Homo sapiens: one gene and its partners. The protein of the gene in region 4 interacts with the protein of the main gene of each other region in a pairwise test. Each region holds a gene or a part of one and is shown on either strand. Other genes may lie near its edges.

Region 1 (7,024 bases), on a different chromosome or scaffold from region 4:
GGTGTTCTTTTTCTGTGTTCCCTTTTTCATGCTCAGTAATTGGAAATGAGCATACTGTATTTCTCCTTTATCATTGCCTGGGTTTCCACCTGTGCAGAGTTAGGTACCTACGGGGTCCCCATCTGGATTCCTGGGCCTCTTTCCATCATTCAATCTCTCCACACGGTGCCTCTGCCTCTGGGGTAGTGTTGCCATAACCAAAGACTGGGGGTTGGTGCTGCTAAGATCAGGCTCATGGTGGAATGAGGAGCAATCACTGCTACATGGGCATCAGAAGCCTTTACCTGGCTGTGGGCTCTTGAGCGAGTCATTCTCCCGCATGTTCTCTGGCCTTCAGTGCTCACTCCAGACCTCTCAGCTCATACTTTCTATGATCAATTGAATTTCAAGGATGGGCACCACAGCCCATGGCTCTCCTGTGTTAAGCTCACCTGGGCTTTCCCTCCCCAGAGAACTTGGCAAACAAGGCTGACAGGGACCAGTATGAGCTGCTTTGCCTGGACAACACCCGGAAGCCGGTAGATGAATACAAGGACTGCCACTTGGCCCAGGTCCCTTCTCATACCGTCGTGGCCCGAAGTATGGGCGGCAAGGAGGACTTGATCTGGGAGCTTCTCAACCAGGCCCAGGTATCCCCACCTGCCATCCTCCCCTCCAGCTTAGTGCTCCCTGCTTGGATTTGGGGGTTTTCCTCCTGGCCATCTTGTCACTCTGGAAGTCTGTGTGTTCAGGATACAGTGGGAGCCATGCCACATGTCACTAAGTTCTCTAAAAGCTGGGACTCCCCACAGAGCAGCAGGGAGCCTGCTGTGGTGCTACCGTCTGCCGCCCTTGCCTTTCTGGCTGGTGACACCTGAAGAGGCTCTGTATTGCTCTGTTGCATTCCTTTCTACCTAAACTTCAAGGCCCAAAGCTAAACCCCTCCCCAAGGAGGCTTTCCATGACCCTCCCAGAAGGAAATGGTCTCTCTCCCCATGCCCCTCAGCCCGGCTGTGAGGGGGCTGCCTGCACAGCGGCTTTACTTCCCAAGAGCTGTGTGATTTGGGCTCAGCCAGCTTCCTCTTGCCGAGCCGTCCCATCTGTCCACTGAGAGTTTGACTGGTAACCACACAGGGCAGCCTCTGGATTAGCCACGTTTCTTGTTCTCACCGATGTCTCAACCCGTTCCGGGAGACAGGCACAGAAGCAGGTTCAGGCAAATCGCGGACCCACGAGGGCTACAGGCAGAGGAAGTGCTGGGTGAGCAGGAGCAGGTCCGACTGCCCTCTCTCCTGGCATCTTGAACTTTTTCATGTTGTTTCCTGCAGAGATTTCTTTTCTCTTCAGTCCCATTTCTCAGCCTCCTTTCTTCTGTGTTGCCATCCACTATTCTGTTTTTCTATGAACAGGAACATTTTGGCAAAGACAAATCAAAAGAATTCCAACTATTCAGCTCTCCTCATGGGAAGGACCTGCTGTTTAAGGACTCTGCCCACGGGTTTTTAAAAGTCCCCCCCAGGATGGATGCCAAGATGTACCTGGGCTATGAGTATGTCACTGCCATCCGGAATCTACGGGAAGGCACATGTGAGTACCTGGGAAGAACCAGGTGACCACAAGCACTTGGGAAACCTGGTGAGCACAGGGGCCAGAGATTGAGTCTTTTCAGGGACCTGCACGCCTCTCCTGATGCTCCTTTTTCTGACCTGTCTGTGAGCCCAGTGTTAGACTGATGCTGAATGGCGTTAGTCATTATGAGATGGCCTTGATGTCACCATGGGCTTTACAGGAAATCCACATTTAAAATGACGTGGGTTGGTTCCAGTATTTCCTTTGCATCAATCAGGACTGCCTTACCTACTCTGTGAAGGCAATTAGCTTATCACAGAGTAAGTGAAATAGAACAAAATTGCTATATATTGCACATCTCCAGCCAGTCAACATGTACCATAATGAAGAGGTGCTCTAAGAGAGGTTGATCCCAGTCCTGGATTTCACTGAGTCACTGTGGTTTTGCTTGACCATTCATTTATTCAGCAGACATTTATTGAACATCTAGCCATATGCTCTGCTAGGTGCTGGACATAGGATGGCATGACAAATATATATTTGATTCTGTTGTCCTGGAAATTTCAAACTGGGGAGAAGATAAATGTTTAATGAATAGTCATGCTATTGGATGATGAATTACAAAGTAAGAGATATGTTTAAAAGGGGAAAAATATGACAACAAAATACCATGGCCCTATGAGACTGCAAAACAAAGAAAAATAGGCCCTGGACTTGGCGTTAAGGCAAAGCTTCCTTGAGGAAGTGACTCTTGAGCTCAGTCTGAAAGATGAGCAGATGTACATTTATTCATCAGACATTTATTATGCTGACCATGTGCTAGCATTGCCCTAACCCTGAGGATGCCCTGGTGAACAAGACAGGCAGGGCCCTTTCTGTGTTGGAGCTTCTGTTCTCCTGCAGAAAACCTGACAATAAACAATGAACATATAAATAAGAACACCTCCAGTAGTTAAGTGCTATCTGAAAAACAAGAAGGAAAAAAACAGCCAGAGGTCATATAGTGCCCAGAGGCTGGAGAGGAAAGTTGGCTTCTCGGAAGACATAAAAAACTAAATTTAAATGAGAAGTCAACCAAGAGATTGTGCATTGACTTTGCTTTCTAAGGTGATTAATTCCTTGAATGGGGTCTGTTTGTTTATTGCTGGCAAATCCCAGCATTTGCATGAAGACAGTGAGTAGTGCTGACAAACACCAGGCAACAGCTAGGGCCGCTTCTGATCTTTGTTCTTTTTTTATGCCATAGGCCCAGAAGCCCCAACAGATGAATGCAAGCCTGTGAAGTGGTGTGCGCTGAGCCACCACGAGAGGCTCAAGTGTGATGAGTGGAGTGTTAACAGTGTAGGGAAAATAGAGTGTGTATCAGCAGAGACCACCGAAGACTGCATCGCCAAGATCATGGTATGTCACTCCAGCCTTCCTAGGGCAGCGTCCCTGTCATTGCTGCCTGCTGGCCCCCAAGACTGAGCTAGGGAGTGTTCCTGGGAATGATGCAAAAACCTGGCTCCCAGGAACCTTGCCCTGACTATGTGAGCACAGCCCCACCGGAGGTTCAGAATCTTTGAGCTTGTGGATCTGAAGGGTGCCCACAGGGCTCAGTTTCCTCCTTGTATGAGTGTATGGTGAAAGGGCAGGCTGAGCAGTGCCTGCTTAGGGAGGCTGGACCATGGTGTGGGTGTCCTGAGACCAGTGGTGTGCCACGATCACTGAGATAAGATCCTGAGTACATGGTAGGATCCAATCAGGTACAAATTTGCTTTGTTGATCAAAAGAGTATCCTAGCCTGGCATGGTGGCATGCACCTGTAGTCCCAGCTACTTCGAAAGCTGAGGCAGGAGGATTGCTTGAGCCCAGGAGTTCAGGGCTAGCAACTTAGCAGGACCTTGTCTCTAACAACATTTTTTTTTTAAGAAAGAATATTCCATGTTGGCTTACAGAGAATTTTTAAAATCCTGAATGATATAAAGAAGAAATAAAAAGTACTTATAATCATGTAATTCAGAGAAAATTCCCTTATTGGGATCATTTCATGTAGGTTGCTTGCTACCTTTTACTCACTCACAGTATCTAGTAAGCTTTTCCCATATCATAAATCATTCTTGTAAAACCTAATCTGGAGCTTCTGTGTTAGTGCACACATCGAGATGGGGGAGTATGGTTTGCCTAGAGAGAACATGAAGTGCCAAGCTCCACTCCCCCTCCTCCCCACATTTCTTGCCCTCTGTGTCTCTTCCATTTGGCTATTCTTGAGTTGGATCCTTTATAATAAATCAGCAAATATATTGAAACAAAGATGCATATTATAAAGGTACTTCCTGCCATTGTCAACAGATTTTTGCTGAAATATGTTAATTCTACTTTTTGAGCACTTATGAATAACCATGTATCTTCAGAACTATCTACCATGAAGCAAAAAGGGACCATCAAGCTCATTATTTTATATTTCATACAATTTATAGATATCACTTTATGCTATTTTAACATATATTCCATTTTAATTTTTGTCTGAGTCAAGACAAGAAAAACCAAACTAAGTTAAAGCAAAGCCTACAAATTCAAAACCTGAGTCTATACAAATCTGTTAGCAGTTTGAGTGGCTGGGCTTCAATATTATACTCTGGATGTGATACAATAGATAAAGTTTTTTACGTCTGTAAAAAAAAGGAAGAGCAAAAGACTCTTGGGAACATGTGAAATCTTAAATGAAGATTAAGTACAACCAAATGTAAACATATTTTAAAAGGTTCTTCTTGGACATCATAATTTGCTCTCCTATGAAGATGTCATCGTTTGAGCCTTTAATGTTGGAAATAGCTTACAGATGTTGGGGCAGAAACCAAAGACCAACATTGCCATGTTCTGTGAGACCACGTCCAAGTGGATGATTGCTGGATAGGTATGTTTCATGCATAACATTTAGTTCATAAAATTATATGCTACTTTAGGAGGTCCAGGGCCCATGGATTAATGAAACAAAAGTAACTAATCTCATTGCTAGTAAAGAATTATTGGAAACAAAGTTGAAAGACATAGTTTATTTGGTCCCACACCTGTGACACATCATCACTGTCAATGGGAAGCCACTGACCTGTCCCAATTTCCCAAGGTTGTTATCATGGACATCATGGCTGCAGTAGAAAGTGAAGGTGAGTGTGGAAAACAGATCCCAAAGTGACCAGTGCCCTCGGTTATTGCAGTAATCATGTTCATGAGTAGACACACAGGACTTCCAAAGGGAGTCATCATCTCGCATAGAAACATCATTACTGGTATTACTGGGATGGCAGAAAGGATTCCCAGACTGGAGGAGGAAGATGACTACATTGGATATTTACCTGTGGCCCATGTTCTAGAATTAAGCTTTGAGCTTCTTTGTTTTTCTCATGGATGCCTGCTTGGCTCCTCTTCACCCCAGACTTCAGTGGATCAGTCTTTAAAAGTAAAAAATGGGCTGCCCACTGTGGCATGCAGCTGTAGTACCAGCTACTCAGGAGGCTAAGGTAGGAGGATTGCTTGAGCCCAGGAGTTTGAGTCCAGCCTGGGAAACATAGTGAGACACCATCTCAAAAAAATAAAAAATAAAAAAATAAAAACCAGAAGCAAAGGGTGTACTTCTGGGTTGAGACCAACACTGATGGCAGCTGTTCTGGAAATCATGGATCAGATCTACCAAAATGTCATGAATTAAGTGTATGAAATCAGTAGTCTTCAACACAATCTGTTTATTCTGGCTTATAATTATAAAATGGAACACATTTCAAAAGAGCATAGTACTGGATTGTGTGACAGCTTTGTTTTCTGGAAACTGTGAAGCTAGCTAGGTGGAAATATTCAGCTTTTATTGTATGAAAGTGCTCCACTTTCTGCAACACGCAGCAAGTTCATGAATACAGACTCACTGAACCTACAGGGGCTGGAACAATTACAGATGTGTGGATTACAAGACTGGCAGAAGTGAGAGTCCCATTAGTTTGCTGTGAAATTAAATTAAAGAACTGGGAGGAAGGTGGATACTTTAATACTGAAAAACCACATCCCAGAGGTAGAATTCTTATCGGTGGCTAAAATGTGACAATGGGATGCTACAGAAATGAAGCAGAAACAAAAGCTGATTTATTTGAAGATGGAAATGGACAGAAGTGATTATGTCCTAGAGATGCTGAAGAGTTTGATGGTTGTTTACAGATGATCGATCATAAAAAGGACCTTGTAAAACTACAGGCAGGAGACTATGTTTCCCTTGGGAAAGTAGAGCCAACTCTGAAGAATCTCCCAGTAATAGATGACGTTTGTGCATTTGCAAACAGTTAATTGTTCTTATGTCATTGGATTTGTTGTGCCAAATCAAAAGGAACTAACAGAACTAACTTGAAAGAAAGGACTTACAGGAACTTGAGAGTAGCTCTCTAACAGTTGTGAAACAGAAGATGAGGTGCAGTAGTCCCCCTTTATGTGAGGTTTCGCTTTCTTGGGTTATACCTACAGTCAACCGTGGTCCAAAAATGTTAAGATATTTTGAGAGAGAGAGAGAGCACATTAACATAACTTTTATTATAGTATGTTATAATTGTTTTATTATTGTTGTTGTTAATCTCTTACTGTGCCTAATTTATAAACTTTATCATAGGCTTGTATGTATAGGAAATAAACATTGTATAGGGTTTCAGGTTCCAAGACTGGGGGTCTTGGAACATATCCCTTGAGGATAAGAGGGGACTACCATACGTAAAGTACTTTCTGAAGCTGCTATTTGGGCGTGTCTGAAAAAGTTTGAAAATCTATTAAAAATTGGTTTGAGCCCTGACCCATGAATCCTGAAACTGGTCTGGTGACAGGTGCCTTCAAGCTAAAACACAAAGAATTTAATACACATTACCAGGCAGACTCTGAGCGAATGTGTGGAAGAAATGATTTTTCTCTTTTGGCATCAGTTTGCTACAGTGAGCTCAAATCAAATAGGAAATTATTTGAAATGCATGTTTCAAACTGTGAGGCAAACTCCATTCTTCATATTCAACCTAGATTTTTACTTCTTAAGACATCACCATTTTCAACAGACAGGATTAGTAAAATAGTAGGAGAGCAAACTTGTGTCTGTCTTTTTCCTTTTCCCCTCCTACAACTACCTTTACCTAACCTGTGACTGTATTGTCAGTATAAGGAGTTTTCTGAATCATAGTGAGGAAGCAGATTTCTAAAACCTCAAGTTTCTAAACATGACCTATATATTCAGTTTATGTTTAAAGTTTGGATGTGTAGAGGGAGTTATGGAAAATATATAAAGTGGCTGTTGGGGGGTGCTTTTTAACTTACAGTATTAAAAAAATGCAAGGCTATTGATGTGAAATTACATACATTTCAAATGCTTATGAATCAAATCATTATTGAGGATAATATTTGCTGATGTGTAATTACTATCTTGCATGAATTAAGAGAAATAAATATAGCCATACTTACGTTTTAAAGAAAAAAATGA
Region 2 (7,844 bases), on a different chromosome or scaffold from region 4:
ATTGAGAAGCTGGAGGATAGAGCCAGTGCTGGATGAGGGAACACCTGATTTTCATTCAAATGTCAACCAGCTGCACAAACCACTCAATGAAGCTGTTCTTGAATTATTAATCATCTTTCCCTGAATGAGAGAAAATGATTCTTTCTGGTTACTTGCTCTGCTTCAGGGACCAATTCAGAGAACTCCAAGCCAGACTCGAGTTTGAGGGAGCTCTCTGGTACCTGACACCCTCTGGCCAAGGCAAAAACAGAAAACAGCAAATGAAGTATTGCAGAAGAAAAGGGAGTAGTTGGCCTTCTAGAATCCAAGTAACTCCCCATATCCAAAGAAGCTGAGAAAGTTCCTTTAAAGCACATTAGCAGAGGTTTGCTGCACTGCTTGGGCATGATCTAATCTGTATTCCTTTCTATTCTAAATCAGGTAAGTTTCCTTTTCCCTTAAGAACTGTCAACAACTTCAAGCCTCAATTTTCTACTATAGATTAGACCCAGCCTTGCAGAGCAGAGAAGGGAGGGTTTAAAATCCCATTACTTCTAAATAGCGGAATTGTTTTAATCATCCCCCAAATATCTATGTTTGGATTCCCTGTCACCCCCAGATTCCTAAGTCTACTGATGCACGGATTTACACAATCTGAGAAATGGGGGAAAGCTTAGCGACTATCCAGGTCAATTTTCTCACTTTAGAGATGTGGAAGGAAGCCAGCAAGGGTCTTTCCTAAGGTTACATGATCGGAAGCCACCTTCCTCCCCGAGTTTCCCCTCTCCTCTCTGTCAGAGCCCTGTAGCAGGAGCTGCTCTAGCTGCTTAGTTCTATTTTAAGACAAACTCTCACTCTGCAAACCACTTATAGAAAACAAGGGCATCTCACCCACCCTGCAATTTTCTCCACGTCTTCATTTTGGGTCATCCCCACTGTATGAGAGTCTGTGATGCTCACCAGAACCATGCCTCCAAGAATTCGTCTCAGGGTCCTTCTCTGTCACCTAGACGCTGGGCAGGGCAAGGCTGTTAAAGGTGGGAAATTATGCACTGGGGTGCTCCTTCTAAACATTTGGCCTTGGCCATTCTTCCCACCAGCCCTCTGAGGGTGAGGATAGGGGGCTTAAACAACCTCAGAGAAGGAAGCCTTGAGAGTTGCATGCACTCGCTAAATGTTGCACAGTCTTTGAGAGGACCGGCGTACGCACTCCTGCGCGCTCTCTCAGTACTTCTCTTCCCCTATTCAGAAGCTTGCGCTCCTCTATTCCCACCCACACCTAAAGAACTGGGATCCACGGCTGCCCTCCACCTGGCGTAGCCCCGGGAAGGGTGACAGGAAGCTTGTGTGGGCTGGGGACGCTGGGGGCCTAGCGGAGGTTCGCCACCTGCAGGGGGTCTTCAGGAGTCGGACTTCAGACGCCAAGAGGGCAGATGGAGGACACCGTCGTCGCTCTCCACGGTCTCTCTTCGTGACTTTCCTCCATGGCCTTAATGATGCCTGCCCTTCCCAGTCTCCCTCGCCTCCTTGCTCTTCTCCTTCTCGCCTTTCCCCCACCGCCTTCCACTTCGACCCCCATCGCCTGGTCTCCTTCCTCTCCGTGGGCTCGGCTTCTCCCTACCTCTTACAAGGCGCTCCCGTCGTGTTTCCACTTTGTCTCCAATTATATCTAAATGCAACCCACCACAGATGCTGACATTTTAAATGTTTAGTTATTATAGCTACTTGACTAATTGCCGGGACCGACGGCGGCGCTTCTCCTTCGCCTCCCGCCGGCAGGAGAGGACGGGGCGGGAGAGGAAGGGGTTAGTTGTGGTTGTAGCCGCCACTCCCCGGCGCCCGGGACCCGGGACGCCCAGTCGGGCCCTGCAGAGGGTGTCCTACCTGGGCACCAGCGGCCCCTCGCCTCCAGCCAGGGCACCGAAGGCGCGCCCGGCGGGATGCAGCGAACTGCCTCCTGCCCCGGGACAGTGGAGCGGCAGAAGGTCCAACCTTCCGGTTCGCCCACGCCCGCAAGGTGGAAAAAGTGGGGTGAAATCGGGGAAATTTAGCGAAATTGGGGCGAAAGAAGAGAGACCAAAGCGTGTTACTCACGTGCCAGATGGCGAAGAAGATGAGCGCAGCGCACAGCACCAGAGACAGCATGTAGCAGAACGCAGCGAAAGTGAAGGCCATGGCCGGCGGACCCCAATCCCACCACACACGCCAAGAAGCCCCTAGGAGCCCGATGCCTCCCTAGAGGACCGCACTCCCTCCAAGGAGCCGCGTCTGCACGCTCCTCTCCAGGCTAGTGCCCAGGAGGGCGCACAGCTAGCGAAGCGACTCGAGGGTCAGCGAATAAGCGCTGGATTCCCGCAGGCTCCGGCGACCCCAGACCCGGCCCTCCGGCGAAGACAGGAAAACGTGTGTCGAGAGTCGCTGGAGGGAACCGTCCGCAAATCGAAGAAGAAACCAAATCAGCAGCGAACACCTGCAAATTAGTGCCAAGCTGTGAGCCCCTCGAGACCAACACGACAAGCGATGCGACGACTCCACGGAGGACCGAGGGAGGAGGTCCCATTCGCCCCAGGAAGAGCTCTCTGCTTTTCTCCACTAAACCGCTGAGGAGAGACGAGCGCTCCGCTCCGGACCCTCCCGCGCCACCGGGGCGCAAACGGATAGTGTCCAGCGAGGTGCCCGAGCGGCCTCCGAGCTCCTCCCAAATCCCAGAGCCGGGCAGCGCTCTTTCCCGAGAGAAGGAGTCTTTAGGTAGCCGGGAGGAGGTAGGTCCCGTTGGTCCTGCGCCCCAGACGCGGCTTCCAGCGCAGCCGTGCGCTCCGAGGCGCGCCCGTCCCCAACCGTGACTCCGGCCAGCCGGCCTCCGCAACCCAAGTGTCCCGGAAACCGGGGGTCGGACCGGGGCGAGCACTGGCTCCACCCAACGGGCCAACTCCAGCCCGGGTGGCTGCAGCAGTGGGTTTCAGGCCAAACGCTGTAGCTCGCTCCACCTGCTGCTGCCGCTGCCGCCGCCGCCGCCGCCGCCTTTGCCACTGCGAGAACTGTAGCGGTGCGACCCGGGATTCCCTCCTCTCGGCGCCCCACCCTCGACTCCTGTTCCGCTGAGCGCGCCCTCCCCGGCGGGCGGAGACTGCAGCGCCGGGGGCTGAGGAAAGGTGGGTGGCGAAGCGCCGCCGGGCGCTTGGTGGCCGCTGCCGCCGCCACTGCAGCTGTGCACGCCCGCCTCTCGGAGGAAACTTGAAGCCAGCAGTACAAGCAGGGCTGGAGGCCGAGCGGAGGTGGGGCGGGACCGGTTGGAGCAGGGACTCTTTAAACACGTGCGTCTGGAGGAGGTGGGAAGCTGCGGAAGGGTATGGTGTGTGCCTCGCGCCTAAACGCCGCAGCCGCCCCTCCCGGTTCTTGCAGTTTCGCCTATCGGAGTGGGAAGTGTGGGGACTTGGGGCGTTGCCTAGTGTTGGTTGGGGATACAGTGCAAGCCTTGGATCCCAAAGCTGCTTGGATGGATTTTACCAAACTGTAGCATACTCAGTGCTTAGGGCTGCGTTTACTGCTCTGCTCCCAGACCCTGCAAAATTCTCCATTAACGTCCTTCCGTTGCATCCTCTACCCTCCCCAGCCATCCGACCTTGGGACTAGGGAAACGTGGACTTGGTGGGCTATTCTGCGCTGAAGAGGCAGCAACGAGGGCTCGGTGGTATTGGTGTTGGTCCTAGTGGAATTGTCAAGAGGATGCTTTTGAAGGTAGACCGTTTTCTAGCTGCAAGTTACCTAACCTCTTTAATCCTTAGTTTCCTTATCAGAAAAACATAAATAAGAGTAGAGTCAAGCCATTTCAAAGGATTAAAAGGGAACATAAGTAAAAAACCTAGCACTTGGTATACGTTCAATAAGTGGTAGGGATTATTAATTGCACCCTTTCCCCCAGTGGCCCAGCATCTTGGAAGTTCACCATGCTTGCTTTGCAAGAGATTCCTGACGCTGCAGTGAAAGAGGTCCAGTCATTCCAGAGAGAACTTCAGTTTCAGACAAGTCATCAAATCCAGAAAGCAAGGAAAAATACCCTGAAAGACGACTGGCAAATCTCGGTGAAAGAGTAGACGCACTTCATGGATTGGAGTGAATCTTAGAGCACCTGGTACCTTGCACAGGGTGGGAACTAGATAAATAACTATTGCTTGATTCTGACTCTGGTGTGCTAGTTTTCCTGTTCACAGATGTGATTCCAATGCCTTGAGAGCTGGAAGGGATGAATTCCAGCAAGATAGAGATACAGCTTTCTAGTGACAGAACTGGAATCCTGTCTGCGGACTCCTAATCCTGGGCTCTTTCTACTATGCCCCAACATTCCTGCAGCTATTTGGCCACATCTTTTACTTATTTATTTATTTATTTATTTATTTATTTATTTATTTATTTGACGGAGTCTCACTTTGTCGCCAGGCTGGAGTGCAGTGGCGTGATCTCTGCAACCTCCACCTCCCTGGTTCAAGCGATTCTCCTGCCTTAGCCTCCCGAGTAGCTGGGACTACAGGCACGCACCACCACGCCCAGCTAATCTTTGTATTTTTAGTAAAGACGGGGTTTCACCATGTTGGCCAAGATGGTCTCGATCTCTTGACCTCGTGATCTACCCACCTCGGCCTCCCAAAGTGCTGGGATTACAGGCGTGAGCCACCGCTCCAGGCCCTTCAATTTATTTTATTTTATTTTTTTGAAGACAGTCTTGCTGTGTTGCCCAGGCTGGAGTGCAGTGGTGCTATCATAGCTCACTGTAGCCTCAAACTCCTTGCTAGGACTACAGGCATGCACCACCACACCCAGATAATTTTTGTTTTGTTTTGTTTGCAGACATAGGTCTCAATATATGGCCAGGCTGGTCCCAAACTCCTGGCCTCAAGCAGTCTTCCAGCCTTGGCCTCCCAAAGCGCTGGGATTATAGGTGTGCACCACAGTGCCTGGCCTCATATCTCCCTCCAGTTTAGAAACTAGATGCCTTTCAGTGAGAAGTGGAGAAATTAGAGCAAATCCAGAGGCTGATGACCAGAGCAATGAACCGATCTACATTTTATTGCCTCTGGGTCAGGACCGGCTACATACTTTGGAGGGCCAAGTGCAAAATGAAAATGTGGGACTTTGTATTAGGCCGTTCTTGCATTGCTATAAAGAAATACCTGGCCAGGCATGGTGGTTTATGCCTGTAATCCCAGTACTTGGGGAGGTCGAGGTGGGCAGATCACCTGAGCTTAGGTATTTGAGACCAGCCTGGACAACATGGCAGAAACCCCATCTCTACAAAAAATACAAAAATTAGCCGGGTGTGGTGGCATGCACCTGTAGTCCCAGCTTCTTGCAGGGCTAAGGTGAGAGTGTTGCTTGAGCCCAGGAGGTCAAGGGTGCAGTGAGCTGTGTTCATACCACTGCACTCCAGCCTAGGCAATAGAGCCAGACCCTGTCTCAAAAAAAAAAAACAAAAACCTGAGGCTGGGTACTTTATAAAGAAAACAGGTTCAATTGGCTCACCGTTCTGCAGGCTGTACAAGCACGGCACCAGCATTTGCTCGGCTTCGGGGGAGGCCTCAGGGTTGCTTTTATTCATGGTAGAAGGTGAAGCAGGAGCAGGCATGTCACATGGCAAAAGCAAGAGCAAGAGAGTGTTGTGGAGAAGTGCCACACACGTGTAAATAACCAGATCTTGTGAGAACACTCTCTTTATTGCGAGGACAGCACCAAGCCATGAGGGATCCACCCCCATGACCCAGACACCTCCCACCAGGCCCCACCTCCAACACTGGGGATGACATTTCAACATGAGATTTGGGCAGGGACAAATAACCCAAACTATATCAAGCTTCTTGATTAAAAATTAATAATTTCAAGACAGCAACAGCAGAACATTAAGCCAAGCATGAGGCCCTTCTGAGCACAAGACCCTGGACAGCTGTAGAAGTTGAATGCCTACAAATCTAGCCCTGCTCTGGGTTATACCCTATGTTGCTTTCTCTTTTACAGAAGTATTTCTTCCAGTATAAATTGTCATTAAAGAAAATTTGGAGGTCAGGCACTGTGGCTCATGCCTGTAATCTCAGCACTTTGGGAGGCTGAGGCGGGTGGATCACTTGAGGTCAGGAGTTCGCGATCATCTTGGGCAACATAATTAAGACCCGGTCTCTACAAAAATGAAAATAAAATTAGCCAGGCATGGTGGTGCACACCTGTAGTCTCAGCTACTCAGGAGGCTGAGGCCAGAGGATTGCTTGAGCCCAAGAGGTCAAGGCACAGTGAGCTGTGATCATGCCACTGCACCCCACCTCGGGTGACAAAGCGAGAGCCTGTCTCAAAAATATAAAATAATTTGGAAAATATAAAAATGAAAAAGATAAACACCACAGTTTGCTGCTCTCAGATACCACCAACACAATCCTGGTGTATTTCTTTCTAGCTGTTTTTTTGCTTTTTATTTTATATAGATCATTTCTTTTCATTGTAGTAATTGTACTGTATAAAATTTCGTGACACCAAAATTCTGAGTCCCTTTGGGACCTCTCTGATCTTTTGTTTCTGCTGGTTCTTGTTTACGGAGTCCTCGCTTCTTATCCATCTAGTAGATTTTTACTGTGCCAAACTTGTTTTGAAAAGTTTTCTTACAGTCATTTGAGGCCTAAAATTATGTTATCTTTCTCCAGGGAGGATTTTCAACTTCTTTTGCCAGGTATCTAGGGGAACCTAGTGCTCCAGGATTACCTTAATCCAAATTCAGCATTTGAGATTTTCCAGGATGACCAAGATAACTGTGGTCTGTGTGAGGGCTGCTTTATTTCTGGTTCAGCCTTACTCACATGGAGCTGTCCTTCTGGATCCCAAGTCAAAACACAGGGCTTATCAAGTCCCAACCCTTGATGGTCCTTGGACTCTGACTTTTGCCCCTAGCGCCACAGAGTACTAAAGGCATAGCTCAGTCTCCTCCTCAAGATTAAGAAATGCCCCTAAAAGCATACCTCAGCCACCTCCTCAAGATTAAGAAATGCCCCTAGAAAAAAAAACTGGCCCCAAGAGCTAAACCAACCCCTCTAGATTCTGAATCACTCTCAGCTTTTGACCCCAGTAATTCCGTACTCTCTTATTAGGTCTTTGATGCTTTCAAGAAGATGTTACTGTATTTCATTCAGCTTTATAAGTTGTGCTCAGTGGGAGAACCGGTCTGAATTCACTAGCACAGCATCACCAGAACCAAGAGTCTCTACATCAAAATAAAATTTCAAATTTAAAAATGGAATCCATTATCCTACCACTGTGACTTTCAAGTCTCCATCCAGCCACTGTTTTTCTTGCCATTTACCTGGTCCTGCTTTGCCTTGTTTTATTAGTTACAGAACAATATCTCGGCAAAGGTTACTGCAAAACTTCAGAAAATAAGAACCCCAGGCAGTTACTGCTCGTTATTTCAAAATATTTTAGTGTCCATAGTTCTGGGCGCTGTCAGGGATCCACAAGGTTTCTAGTCTAATTGGTGAGGCGGTAATTCCTTCACAAGGCAGTGTTTAAAAAAATCAAAAAGTACTAGTGACACAGTAGAGGAAGGCAAGGGAGATGGTGATTGGGAATGGATGTTGAGTGGAGTGACCAACCTACATTGTTTTCTCTACTGTAGACATTGAAAAGCCAATTACTTGATTTTTTTCCCCACCCACCATGCAGCCAGGAGAGGCCATATGACACAGTTTGAACTCTTTAGATAATATTTCTTTTTGCCTGAAATGCAGACCTGATGCCTGGAGGTACAGCAGCCATCTTGTGACCATAAGGAGGAAATCAACGCATTAAGAAGGGAAAAGCTAAGAAGATACAGAGAGCAGGGACCACTGACAACA
Region 3 (6,893 bases), on a different chromosome or scaffold from region 4:
AGGCGTGAGCCACTGCGCCCAGCCAGAAGCACAATCTTTTGCCCCTTCTGTTACAAAAAGCTTATCACTACCACTCCACCAGAACAGTAAGGACCCAATCATTAGAGCCAGAACTGGAAGGCCCCACCCTGAACCAATTTTAATCATCCTTTTCTAGGAAAAAACATCTTGCAAGTTTTAACACTCATCTGAACCATCATTCCTCAAGTTTTCTTGTTTTAAATTAATTTTAAGAACACAAAGCGATGGCCGGGCATGGTGGCTCACGCCTGTAATCCCAGCAACACTTTGGGAGGCCGAGGCGAGCAGATCACCTGAGGTTGAGAGTTTGAGACTAGCCTGACCAAACATGGAGAAATCCCATCTCTACCAAAAAAATACAAAATTAGCCGGGCATGGTGGCGCATGCCTGTAATCCCAGCTACTGGGGAGGCTGAGGCAGGAGAATCACTTGAACCTGGGGGAGGTGGAGGTTGCAGGGAGCCGAGATCACACCATTGCACTACAGCCTGGGCAACAAGCGTGAAACTCTGTCAAAAATAAATAAATAAATAATAATCTAAGCTACTTGTGTTATCTTTGGTGTTCTCAATGGTGACTGAAAACAACAATTCAATTTCTCACATTAATAATGAAGCTCAGGTAGGCAAAACGTAGCCCCACGTTTTGAACCATGAAATGGAACACATTCACTGCCTAACAACTTCACTACCCTCTATTTTCTCCAAAATCAGACAGAATCCAGCCCCTGTTTTTACCCACCAACATTCTTCTCTGTTCCTTGAGGTCCTCCTCATTTCTTCCAGGCTCAGCTCAAGGCTTCATCTCTATGAAGCCTTCTCTGACTGACTTCCCTATCCTGTAATAACTGGTATTGAACTACCTGATAATGAGTAAAAATATTGTCTTTAACAGTACTGGGGCATGCCTGATGCATGAGATTCCAAATGATATGAAAAATATAATGAAAACATTGGACCAGGAATCTTTTCCCGTCCCCATCACTCTTCTGGTTTAGTAGGGAGTTTTTTTGTTGTTGTTTTTGAGATGGCATCTCGCTGTCGCGCAGGCTGGAGTGCAGTAGCACGATCTCAGCTCACTACAACCTCTGCCTCCCAGGTTAAAGCGACTCTCGAGCCTCAGCCTCCTGAGTGGCTGGGATTACAGGTGTGCACCACCATGCCCAGCTAATTTTTGTATTTTTCGTAGAGACGGGGTTTCACCATGTTGGCCAGGCTAGTCTCGAACTCCTCACCACAAGTGATCCACCTGCCTCGGCCTCCCAAAGTGCTGGAATTACAGACGTGAGCCACCATGCCCGGCTAATTTTTGTGTTTTTAGTAGAGACAGGATTTCACCATGTTAGTCAGACTGGACTCGAACTCCTGACCTTAGGTGATCCGCCTGCCTTGGCCTCCCAAAGTGCTGGGATTACAGGCGGGAGCCAATGCGCCCAGCCGAGGGTCATTTTTAACTAGCATTGTGATCGATTCAGGTTTAGCTGGGAATCTTGCTCCATGACATTTAAATACATTATCAGAGGCAAGTAACTGCCTCGCCTTAGGGCGGAGTTAGCCAAACTGCTGTCTATCTAACAATCTTCAACACAGGCTAGGTTTACAGCCACCATTACTTGATAAGAACATCCAAAGGAAATTGAAGGATGCTATGCTATATATAACCTTGCAAAATCGATGACAAAAATTATCTTAACTCTGAGTTTTCTTGAGAAGCATATTGTAACCCAAAATTCAGGGCCGGGGGGCGGGGGGAACCAGCAGGGTCCACAAGTACTCTAGACAGCCTAACCTTAATTTTCACAGTAAGCTTAGCATATAAGCATGGGGTAGCCAAATACAATTTCCTACTTTAATCCTCTTATCAACGGGGAAGAAAATGGAAAAAGCTGCAGAATCCAGTCCCCCGGGTAAGTGAGGTCTCTACAAGCAGTAAGCAGAGGGAAAGCGTTATCCGAAAAGAGCCGAATCAGAATGTATTTTCTTACCCACCCTCCCAACCTTAAAAGAACTGTCCAGCAGAATGTGACACAATCGGCCTCTCCGGCGCCCATCAATCCAGCACAGCCCTCTGACCACACCGCTAATCTCCAAGTATCTTTCACAAATAAGTCACTCCTATGGCTCCCGTCTTGTAGTGAGAACTGCTAGCAATATTCTTAATGTGAACACCTGCGGCGTTCAGTCGGATTCTGCCTTGAGAAAACAGAATCCACACACAAGGCGAACAGGCAGAGCATGGCAAGATCAGGTTGTACCAGAGCCGAAGGGTAAGTTTACAGAAACCCGTATCTAATTAATGCCTGTAACACGCTAGTAACCGAATCGGGGACAGCTTTGTCCCTTTCCGCAGTGAGAACGGGGCCCGCCCGGAGCCCGGGGAACCGAAGGTTTAGGAGCCCAAGGTCACCCACGAATCCCAGCCGTTCCCTGGGGCGACTTCCTGGAGCAGCCACGTGTTCCCCCGGCGCCGCACGCCGCGCAGCTGCACCTTGGCTGCGCCCGCGCTCCCGGACCCGCAGCCCGGAGCCGGCGCACTAGGGCCTGCGGCCTTCAAGGGCGAGGACCCGAAGTCCCCGGGGCTGAGAGCGACAGTGGGGGTACACCTGGTCTCGTCATTCGTCGCTCTGTGACCGAGGAGGCGGGCAAGAAGGCAGAGAGAAGGGAAGGGACGAGAGGCGAAGGGACGAGAGGCGCAGGGACGCCTCTGCGCACAGCCGCCGACCCCGTGTACCTGCAGCCGCTCGAGGCGCCGCCACAGCCCCTTCCCCACAGGCTCGCGGCCCCGCTCCATCCCGGCCGCCCCGCCTGGGGCCGCGACCGCTTTCCCGCTCCCCGTGCGGCTCCCTATGGCTGCTGGACAGCACCGGAGCGGCCGCTCCAGCCAGCCCCGCAGGATGAAGGGAGGACACGAGGGTCGGTGTAGTTCTAGAAGCCCGCACTCACACTAGCGCGTCCTCCGTCCCGAGCCGCCACCCGATATCCCGACGCTCTGAGGGGATGGCGGCCCCTAACCGGCGGTTTATAGCCTGGCCCCGCCCCCGGCCCCCAGGGGGGCTGTGCGTCACTTCCTGAGGCACGTACGCTCGCGAGGTGCTCTGACAGATCGCCCGGGGGGCGGGGATGCGCGCGCAGCGGGCGGGGCCCTATGCGGAGGGCGCTGCGGGCGAGGCGAAGGCCAAGGGAAAAGGCGCCAAGGCAGCAGGTGCCCCGAGGAGCCGCGCGATGGGCGCACTGGCCTCTGCCTCGGCGCCTTCCTCCACCCTGGTAGCCTGGCAGCCTCCGCCTGACCTTGACCAACCTCCAGTCCCTGCAGTGCTAGGTCCAATCTGTTGGCGTTGACGCTTAAATGTTGGATATTGCACTGCGGCAGTGCCTTGAAATGTACGTGCAGGATGGAATGTTAGGTAACTATTAAAGCCACTCTTGTGAAGATGTATTTTGCAGCCTCAGAAATACAAAAAGGAAAAGAAAAGCAAAATGCAAATTTTTATTCAGAATGTATACAAGCTGCACTTTAACCAAGACTAGCGGAGTGCTTTGCGTAATGTTTAATGCATGAGGGAATAAAAGGGAAAATAGAAACAAGTGACTTAATAGGGTGATAGGATTGTAGATTAACTTTCGTTTTCATTGCCATCGCTGTTATTGGATTGTGCAATGAATAACAAATAAATAAAATTCAATTCTTGTCACTGTTTAAACTCTTTCCAAACAATCACACCCTCTCCCTCCCTCTGGTCAGTAACCAGCAGGCCAGGGAGGTAGTAGCTACAATGCAAGAAAGCAACCCATACCTTAAAAAGCATTGCACATAAACTGACCTTCAGGCCCGTAGGGACACAGAACAGCCCTTTAAGAAGCAAATCCGTTTCTGGGCCTTGGGCTTTTACTCTTCCCTTTATTTCTTCTGCTCTAAGATAGAGAAAGTACTTGGGATTCTCACCGCCTTTCTCTTTACTCCCATTCTCTAAAATCTCTCTCCCCAAAGAGAAGTGTTTAAAAGTCATATGAGTTGCCAGGCGCGGTGGCTCACGCCTGCAATCCTAACACTTTGGGAGGCCGAGGTGAGCGGATCACGAGGTCTGGAGTTCGAGACCAGCCTGACCAATATGGTGAAACCCCATCTCTACTAAAAAAATTTCAAAAAAAATTAGCCAGGCATAGTGGCACGCGCCTGTAATCCCAGCTACTCAGGAGGCTGAGGCAGAAGAATCGCTTGAACCCAAGAGGCGGAGGTTGCAGTGAGCCAAGATCGCGCCATTGCACTCCAACCTGGGCGACAGAGCAAGATTCCATCTCAAAAAAAAAAAAAAGTCATATGAGCAGGAGCATTGCTGCACCTTTAATGATCTAATCAGGAAAAGGTTAAGGATGCACATCCACAGAGGGCCTACCTTAACATTCAGACACCAGGCCTGCTCCCCTGTGGTGTTCCTTCTTTATTTCTTTAATTATTAATTTTATTTATTTTTATTATTTTTACTTTTAAGACAGTGTCTTGCTCTGTCACCCTGGCTGGAGTACAGTGGCATGATCTCGGGCTCACTGCAACCTCTGCCTCCGGATTCAAGCGATTCTCCTGCCTCAGCCTCCCAAGTAGCTGGGACTACAGGTGTGTGCCACCATGCCAGGCTAATTTTTGTATTTTGAGGAGTGACGGGATTTTATCATGTTGGCCAGGCTTGTCTCGAATTCCTGACCTCAGGTGATCTGCCCACCTTGGCCTCCTAAAATGTTGGGATAACAGGCATGAGCCACCATGCCCAGCCTATTTATTTTTTATTTTTAATTTGACGCAGGGTTTGCTATGTAGCCCAGACTAGTCTTGAACTCCTGGGCTCAAACAATCCTCCTGCCTCCGGTCTCCCAAAGTGCTGGGATTATAGGCATGAGCTAACATGCCTGGCTTTCTGCCTTTCCTTGACTGAAGTATCTTTTAAAAAGAAACAAACAATGCTGGTATTTGCAGGTGAAAATCTTATAGCCTCATGGAGGACATAGGTTTAGGTGGCCAGATGCGATGGCTAATCCCTGTAATCCCAACACTTTGGGAGACTGAGGCAGGTGGATCTTCTGAGGTCAGGAGTTCAAGACCAGCCTGGCCAGCATGATAAAACCCCATCACAACTAAAAATACAAAATTTAGTCTGGCGTGGTGGCGCACACCTGTAGTCCCAGCTACTCCAGAGGCTGAGGCAGGAGAATCGTTTGAACCCGGGAGGGGGGTGGCTGCAGTGAGCTGAGATCACACCACTGCCCTTCAGCCTGGGCAGCAGAGCAAGACTCTGTCTCAAAAAAAAAAAAAAAAAAGAAAGAAAGAAAGAAAAGAAAAGAAAGAAAAATATGTTTAGGAGACATTTAGAGGCCAGGACCATTTGGACATGAAAATTCAAATCTCAAAAATTTATATTCACTAAAATAAAACCATAAACGTGACACTAAAGAGGCTATCAATTATATTTTTATTTTTATGCTGTTATTAGTATTAATAGACACTGCAATTAAAGTCCACTTATTAACACTTTTACTATTTATTTATTTATTTTTAAACAGTCTTACTCTGTCACCCAGGCTGGAGTGCAGTGGCGCCATCTCGGCTCAATGCAACCTCCACCTGGGTTCAAGCGATTCTCCTGCCTCAGCCTCCCGAGTAGCTGGGATTACAGGCACGTGCCACCACGCATGGCTAATTTTTTGTATTTTTAATAGAGACGGGGTTTCTCCATGTTGGCCAGGCTGGTCGTGAACTCCTGCCCTCATGATCTGCCTGCCTTGGCCTCCCAAAGTGCTGGGATTACAGGCGTGAGCCACCGAGCCTGGCCAAATTATTCGAAATTATTATTGGAAATTATTTAATTTCCAACCCTCCACAAACTATTCCATGAGGCTTACCTCATCCTGGAACTAAAACTCTTGCAGTTCTTCTGCATCGTACACAGAAATACGAGAAGTTTCATAAAGGGAAGGAGGTTGGCAAGGAAAAAGATACCATGAGCTGTGGGGAAAAGAAAAGAGCACAAAGCCTGGAGGGCCAAGAAGCTGGAGTTCTCAACTTTCCTGAGCCTGGGTTGTACCAGCTCTAAAATGGGAATAAAGGCTGGGCACGGTGGCTCACACGTCTAATCTCAGCACTTTGGGAGGCTGAGGCGGGCGTATCATTTGAGGTCAAGAGTTCGAGACCAGCCTAACCAATGTGGTGAAACCCCATCTCTACTGAAAATACGAAAATTAGCCGGGTGTGGTGGCAGGCACCTGTAATCCCAGCTACTCAGTAGGCTGAGGCAGGAGAATCGCTTGAACCCGGGAGGCAGAGGGTGCAGTGAGCTGAGATTGTGCCACTGCACTCCAGGCTGAGAGACACAGCAAGACTCCTTCTCAAAAAATAAAATGGGAATAAAAATACCTCATTCCAAAAATACCTCTTTTAGGGTCTAGAAGACCCTAAAAGCAATGACTGGCACATCATACACTGTTGGTCAGCATGGTTGAATCAGAGTCCTCGTGGGGCGGAGTGGGGTCAGGTAGGAACGTGACGTGGAAGATGTCTGCAGACTGGGATGGATGTGGGCTCATGAAGAGGAAGGATGAAGGCATTTCAGCAGAGGAGAACCGGCCACCTGAAGGCTCTGTAGTGAGAAGGAGCCTGTGGTGTGTGTTAAAATTCCTAAGGAGATGTCTGACAGCTAATTCAGGGGAATTACTGCTGGAAACAACAGTGCAGGATGATTAACGGCAAAATTCTGCCTCCCTCTCTTTTTTCTTCACCAAGAGATGAAAGCAGAAGTCTTGCTTTTTGGTGAGAGAGAACTGGCAGGAAAAGCAAACCAGATAAGCCACTTACCTAGTGAAAGAGCCCCAGCTGGCAGGGCATGG
Region 4 (7,024 bases):
CTGGACGACAGAGCACGAATCTGTCTCAAAAATATAAAATAATAAAATAAAAGATATGTTGGCCAGCTTGGTCTTGAACTTCTGGCCTCAAGCAATCCTCCTACACCTCAGCTTCCCAAAGTGTTAGGATTACAAGCATGAGTCACCGTGCCCAGCCAATATTTTCAAAGTACTCAGAACAGTGCCTAGTACAGAATATACACAATATAGTGTTTATTATTAATATGATTTCTCAAGTGGAAGAAAACAGGTGTCACTCCAAACACTGCGATCGGCTTGGCAAGGTCCTTGGCTCATTCTTTAAACCTTCCTACCCCCTCTCTATTACAGGTTTTTGTACTTTAAAAAATGTTGGGGAGAGGCAGAAGGGGCATCTCACACACACACTGTCTCACACACACTCTCACACACATGTGCATGCATGCTGAGTACAGACAGAAGATGTGTCACGCCGTCCTGTGCATTCAGGACAGTGCCTAACACATCCCGGGTACTTACGGCAATGTTTCACGAAGAAATGAATGTCTAAAAATTTTCCATTGCCTGCAAGTCACGCCCTCATAAATTCTTTTATTTCAGCTTCTTTAGTCTCCCCAAAGGTTAGGAAGAAAAATGCGTGGCTCACAGTGCTTATAGATGGGTGTTTTTATCAAAACAAAAGGAATAAAATTGTCCAGTAACTGGGTGTTCTCTAGAATGTCAGAAGCCAACCGTGGTGCCAGCTAACCCGAGATTGTCCCTGTGTCTGAATGTCTTGGCCCTACCACAGTCTTGCAGTAGATTCTGCTCAGTTCTATAGCTGGAATCCTGGCTGCCTTTTTATTTTTATTTTTTGGCCAAAAGTCCTTTTGCCAAAATAAAGACTATAAAGAAGAGGGCCCTCGCAGAGACAGCTGCAGTCGGTCCAGTGATTGGACAGAATGGGGCCAGGTGTCAAGGGCATGGGTGTTTGGCCCTGCGAGGGGCTGTAGGTGGCCTCCTATCAGTCCCCACCACCTGGCTGCTGTCCCCTCTGCAGCCTCCCTCAGCAGCTGGAGGTGGGTGGGGCTTGTTTATCAGGAAGAACCGATGCCCTCCACAGCCATCCTGGCCGGGGGTGGCAGGACTAGTCAGAAGGCTTCAAGGAAACGGGAGGTCACATGTGCTGGCCAAAGAAAGGGGGGCTGATGACATCTTCCCTCCTCCCCTCCAGAGCCTGGACATTCTGGAAAAGTGTCTTCCTTTAAGAATGGTCATTCTGGCAGGACAGGAAAGGGGAGCCTGCTGAGTACCACAGAGGCTGAGGCCTGGTGGTCACCAGCCCAGTCACCAGTCCATGCTGCCAGTTAGCCGTCCCTCCCTCCTGAGCCTCAGTCATCCATCTGTCAAAACAGGAGCGACAAAGGTTCCTGGGTCATGAGGCAGTGAGGGATTTATGAAATGACGCCTTTGAAGTGGAAGCTCAACTCCTGGCTCAGCAGAAGGGACCTGTCATCGGGACACTGAGGGTTTTCCTCAAATGTTCTAAAAAATCTTATGCCTCTAAAAATAACAGGGTAAAAGTGGGCCAGCTGCAGAGCCCATAACAAGAGCTGACCTCCAGCCAGGTGCGCATCACCTGCCGGGACAAGCCCCAGGACTGTCCTTAGAGAAGTCTTTTGATTAAAGTGCTCTGTTATTGAGAAGTGGTTTTTTTCCCTCCCCTAATGTGGGTGAGGTTGGTATTTTTGTTTCTCCCACACATTCCAGGCTTGGTAGGTGCTCAGTAACTGTTAGCAGATGTCCCATGCAATCCATGATTTCTGTACAAGTCCTGGTAGGGCACTGTGCAAAAATCGCCCCCACTTTGTGTGTTTCAGATGTCAGGTGTAAATCTTGATTCTAGGAGTAAATCTGCCATCGCTTTTGCTGCATTAATTTTGTGCGCACCGTCCTTTTTTGATGGCATATAACATGGTTGTCACATGCTCAGGCTGTGGCCTTGGAGGGCCTGGGTTCTAATCTTGGTGACATCAGGCCAATGACCTCACCTCAGCAAGCCTGTGTTGCTCCTTTGCAAAGTGGGAAAAGCAGTAGTATCTACCTCTGAAGGTTGGCATGAGGATGGAAGGAGAAAGGGTTGGAGGACCACCTGGCTCAGAGAAAATGCTTGATAAAGGATCATTGTCCCCAAGCTTGTGAGCCCTGGTGTTTTAGTTACTATTGCTGCTGTAACAGATGAGCACATAACCTGGTGGTTTAAAACAATCCACATTTATTATCTTACACTTCTAGAGGTCAGAAGTCCAAAATGGGTCTTAATGCACTAAAGTCAAGGTCTCAGCAGAGATGGGTCCTTCTAGGGGCTCGAATCCATGTCCTGCCTTTTCCAGCTTAAAGCCGCTTGCATTCCTTGGCTCATGGCCCTTGCCTCCATAAGCCAGTAGCACCGCATCTTCAGCTCTCTCACTCTGCTTCTGTCCTCACAACCCCCTCCCCGACACTGAGTTTCCTGCCTCCCTCTCTTCACTTATAAGGACCCTTGTGATGACGTTGGTAATAATGTAGCCCAGGTAATCCGGGATCATCTCCCTATCTCAAGACCCTTAATCACATCTGCAAAGTTCTTCTGCCATGTAAGGTGACATATTCACAGATCCTGGGATTGGGACATCTTTGGAGTCATCATTCTGCCAGCCATACCTAGTTCCAGGCTTGCATTGCACTTAGTGACTAAGTTGGCTCAAACTCGGCTCACTGAGTAGGAAAGGGGTAACTGATCCACGCCTGTAATCCTAGCACTTTGGGAGGCCAAGGCGGGTGGATCACCAGGTCAGGAGATCAAGACCAACCTGGCTAACACAGTGAAACCCCATCTCTACTAAAAATACAAAAAATTAGCTGGGTGTGGTGGCACACACCTGTAATCCCAGCTACTTGAGAGGCTGAGGCAAAAGAATCCTTTGAACCAGGGAGGTGGAGGTTGCAATGAGCCACAATCATGCCACTGCACTCCAGCCTGGATGACAGAGTGAGACTCTGTCTCAAAAGAAAAAGGAAAGGGGTAACTGATCTCTCATCCAGCAGGAAAGAGTATAACATTGCATGCGTGTATAAAAGCCGGTAATGACTGCCCGTGCCTGCCCTAAAGCACCTCCTCTTCTCTGATTTGTACACAGGACCCCAGCCAGGCCACGGGGACAACAGGCAGCAGCGTCAGCTGCACAGAGGAGAAAAAGCAAAGCAAGTCACAGCAACTGAAAAAGATTTTTCAAGAGTATGGCACTGTTGGCGTGTCATTGCACATTGGAATCTCATTAATTTCCTTGGGCATATTTTACATGGTTGTGTCAAGGTAAGATTTTTGACAGTAATTAATATTTGTTTTTTACTGTCATGTAAGATTCTATGTGAATAAGAACGTGTTTGCTAAGACTTTTTTTTTAAGACAGGGTCTCACTCCACTGCCCAGGCTGGAGTGCAGTGGCATGATCACAGCTCACTGCAGTCTCGACCTCCCTGGGCTCAAGTGATCCTCCCACCTCAGCCTCCCAAGTAGCTGACACTACAGGCATGCACCACTGCACCCAGCTGATTTGTTTGTTTGTTTGTTTTGGGGGACGGACTCTCGCTCTGTTGCCAGACTGGAGTGCAGTGGCGTGATCTCGGCTCACTGCAAGCTCTGCCTCCCGGGTTCAAGTGGTTCTCCTGCCTCAGCCTCCCGAGTAGCTGGGACTACAGTCGCATGCCACCAAGCCTGGCTAATTTTTGTCTTTTTAGTAGAGCCAGGGTTTCACCCTGTTGGCCAGGATGGTCTCAATCTCTTGACCTAGTGATCCGCCCCCTCGGCCTCCCAAAGTGCTGAGATTACAGGTGTGAGCCCCCGCGTCAGGCCGATTGTATGTTTTTTTGTTGTGTTGAGACAAGAGTCTTGCTATGCTGCCCAGGCTGGTCTTGAACTCCTGAGCTCAAGCGATCCTCCCACCTCGGCCTCCCAAAGTGCTAGGATTACAGGCGTGAGCCACTGCACCTGGCCACTAAGACTTTTATTCATTCAGCTACTTCATTACATTTTTTAAAATACTGTAAATCTTATAGCCAAATCAATTTCTTCATTTAATCCCTTGCTGTAATAATTGTTTTCTTTGCTTCTTCCCCCCTAGTGGTGTGGACATGCCTGCAATCCTGCTGAAACTCGGATTTAAAGAGTCCCTGGTACAGTCAAAAATGGCAGCAGGCACAAGTACCTTCGTGGTGGCCTATGCAATCCACAAGCTGTTTGCGCCAGTGAGAATCAGCATTACGCTAGTCTCTGTGCCCTTGATTGTCAGATATTTTCGAAAAGTGGGATTTTTTAAACCTCCAGCTGCAAAACCTTAATGAACTCTTCAGTCGTACACACTGAAAACCTATTTCTTCTAAATTACATGATTTGGATTGGTTTTAGGGTTTTAGGGTTGTAGGGTTTCTTTTGGAGAGGTAGGGGGCTAATTGCTATGTTCTCATGGATAAACTTTGCCAGCAAAAATCAGGCTTTTGAACAATTTTAATTTTTTGCCTCATAAATTTTGTGAATGCTATTCATTATAGGGCTTGTATATATAATCTAAAATGTCAGCAAGGCATCGGAGATGGGTTAACATCTCAAAACAAAATAGCCTACAAATGTTCCTTGTGGGAGACTTTGGCGAGGGTCTGTGGGTAAAAGCACCAGGGGGTTAATCTTGGCTCAGTTTCCTAAAAAGCATTGATTAATTTAACTGGCTTTTAAATATCCCCTTCCGCTGATATTTGTTGTCAGCTGCCTACAGTTTAATATGCAGCGTTCACAAAACAGCTGCCAGTGCTACAATTAATGAAGCAAAACTTAATATGTAATCACAATCTAAATTAGCATCAATACTTTGACATTCATTACATTGGTTTGGGGGAAGAAAAGTAGTTCTGGTATGTTTCATTGATCCCCAGATACCTTCCAATCTGGACATGATGGGGCTGATTCCAGATGGTTTTTCTGAAATTTCATTAAGGTAGGTCAGCGTCATTTGTCTCTGTTTAGGTAAAATATAAAAACCCTGCCCAGTAGCAGTGGCATCGCTTGGTTCCTGATGCCCATGTTCCAGAGGAATTCGGATACCACAAACAGCTAAGACAATCTCAGCTTTTCTTAGACAATCTTCTATCTCAAACTTCAGACATTCCAGAATTGTCATGATGTTTACACTGTCTGAGTTAAAAATCCTGTTCAAGAAAAAAAAAGATTTTGTATCACTTCTTAAAAAGGAATATTCATAGCACTTGTCACAAATAGAAGGCAACCATGAGATAATACAAGCCAGGGAGAGGCTTGTATTACATGACAGGTGTAATTAGTCTGCTGAGCCAGCTTTACCCAATGAAGGGCATATGTGTTAGAGAGATTAGCTAAGAGTAGAAATTCGAGCATAGAGGCCAGGTGCGGTGGCTCACGCCTGTAATCCCAGCACTTTGGGAGGTTGAGGCAGGCGTGTCACTTGAGGCCAGGAGTTCGAGACCAGCCTGGCCAACATGATGAAACCCCGTCTCTACTACAAATACAAAAATTAGCCGGGTGTGGTGGCACACGCCTGTAGTCCCAGCTACTGGGGAGGCTGAGGCAGCATTGCTTGAACCCAGGAGGTGGAGGTTGCAGTGAGCCAAGATCACACCACTGCACTCCAGCCTGGGCGACAGAGGGAGACACTGTCTCCAAAAGAAAGAAATCCCAGCGTAGATCCAAACTGAGACACTGAGGCTTCGTCCTTATAGTAGTCAGGAGCAGGCGATTGAAGTAATTCTGTCCTGCGGGGTTCAGCATCATGCACGTTCCCCCTGGGCCATTCTCTGATGCAGGGCACTTGCTCCACACTCTGGGAACCCAGATTCACCAGTCTGCCCTGTCACGTAGTTGAAGGAGTTGCATTTATCTTTCTGGCTCCTAATTCCTTTAAAATTACATTTGTTGCAGAACCTCCACAAGGCTAAATAAAATTACATTTGTGACCATCAGAGAACTGAATAAACCATTAACTGGCCATCCTGGTTTTGCAGAGATCAGGTTGTTGACAGTTCCTGGTTGACCCACAGCTACCCATGTCAGTTATCTCCACTAACATATCCAAGAATCTTTGTAGGACAATTTCTCCACCTGCAAGGTCTTTCAGGTAGAACTCTTCTTTTAAGGCAATTAGCCCATTGCCAAAAGGTTTTACTGTCTTAAAGCTGTCTTTCTGAGATCTAATTCCAAGGACTTCTCCACAGCTAAGTGAGATGCCTCACACCATTAGGTGATGCTTTGGACAGAACAGAGTATTTTCATCTTGTGTTTAAAGCAATTCCTTGGCTTCGGCTCCTCACCACTTTCTATGCCAGTCTCCCATTTATGTCCCTAGTAATGCCTATGCAAAAAAAAAAAAAGAAAAAAAAGAAAAACTGATGGTGAAACCTACAGGTTTAAGGGCTTAAATCTCAAACTTTGTTAGGAGTAACAGGAGCGTGCTGAGCGGGCAAGCAATAAAACAAATCATACCAAAAAGCCACATTGCTCTCTCCTAAGCCCCAACCCCACTCCACTCCTGTGGCCAGGGGTCCAAACAGAAAATAACCGGAGAAGACAAGGAGGTCAAAGGATCAGGGAACTAAGCATTATGTGAATTCACCAGCAAGATGTACAGAACGCCTGTGTTTACATTGTTTTTATGGAACTAGCAGAATAAAACATCTATTTTAAAAATGAAAGCCATTGTTTCTCTAATTTATCTGACAAAGTGAGCAGCTTAAATTCTGTGAAACATCTTTATAGTTTATGAACTTTTTTATATTCCTTCTGGTAAGCCATGGTTGTTGCTGATGATGAAGTGGCACTGTGACCAGTGTATTAATGTGCTACTACAATGAGCTTTTTCTTTGCTTGTGTGGGATTGTCTGGGGAAACGTCCCAAGTCTCACTGGTGTCACTGGGAAAGTCAGTCACGTGATAATAACTATAGCTTGGGAGGGTGGCACATGAACTATTTGGGAAGGTCAAAGTCAGTTCAGCTCAAGACTA

The links.
Region 1: the proteins of FAM210B (region 4) and TF interact in binary tests that used the Homo sapiens proteins (3 or more experiments, as listed by UniProt).
Region 2: the proteins of FAM210B (region 4) and CNIH3 interact in binary tests that used the Homo sapiens proteins (3 or more experiments, as listed by UniProt).
Region 3: the proteins of FAM210B (region 4) and TFRC interact in binary tests that used the Homo sapiens proteins (3 or more experiments, as listed by UniProt).

What each region holds. Positions count from the first base shown.
Region 1 is NC_000003.12:133,756,381-133,763,404, forward strand, and holds part of TF (serotransferrin isoform 1 precursor), read left to right. Parts: intron 1-450; coding exon 451-629; intron 630-1,388; coding exon 1,389-1,566; intron 1,567-2,794; coding exon 2,795-2,949; intron 2,950-7,024. UniProt on the Homo sapiens protein: Transferrins are iron binding transport proteins which can bind two Fe(3+) ions in association with the binding of an anion, usually bicarbonate.
Region 2 is NC_000001.11:224,611,485-224,619,328, reverse strand, and holds the start of CNIH3 (protein cornichon homolog 3), read right to left. Parts: upstream 3,013-7,844; 5' UTR 2,155-3,012; coding exon 2,074-2,154; intron 1-2,073. UniProt on the Homo sapiens protein: Regulates the trafficking and gating properties of AMPA-selective glutamate receptors (AMPARs).
Region 3 is NC_000003.12:196,079,080-196,085,972, forward strand, and holds the start of TFRC (transferrin receptor protein 1), read right to left. Parts: upstream 3,012-6,893; 5' UTR 2,964-3,011; exon of another isoform or gene 2,752-2,963; intron 1-2,751. UniProt on the Homo sapiens protein: Cellular uptake of iron occurs via receptor-mediated endocytosis of ligand-occupied transferrin receptor into specialized endosomes. Endosomal acidification leads to iron release.
Region 4 is NC_000020.11:56,361,950-56,368,973, forward strand, and holds the end of FAM210B (protein FAM210B, mitochondrial), read left to right. Parts: intron 1-3,137; coding exon 3,138-3,313; intron 3,314-4,121; coding exon 4,122-4,338; 3' UTR 4,339-6,714; downstream 6,715-7,024. UniProt on the Homo sapiens protein: Plays a role in erythroid differentiation. Involved in cell proliferation and tumor cell growth suppression. Involved in the metabolic reprogramming of cancer cells in a PDK4-dependent manner.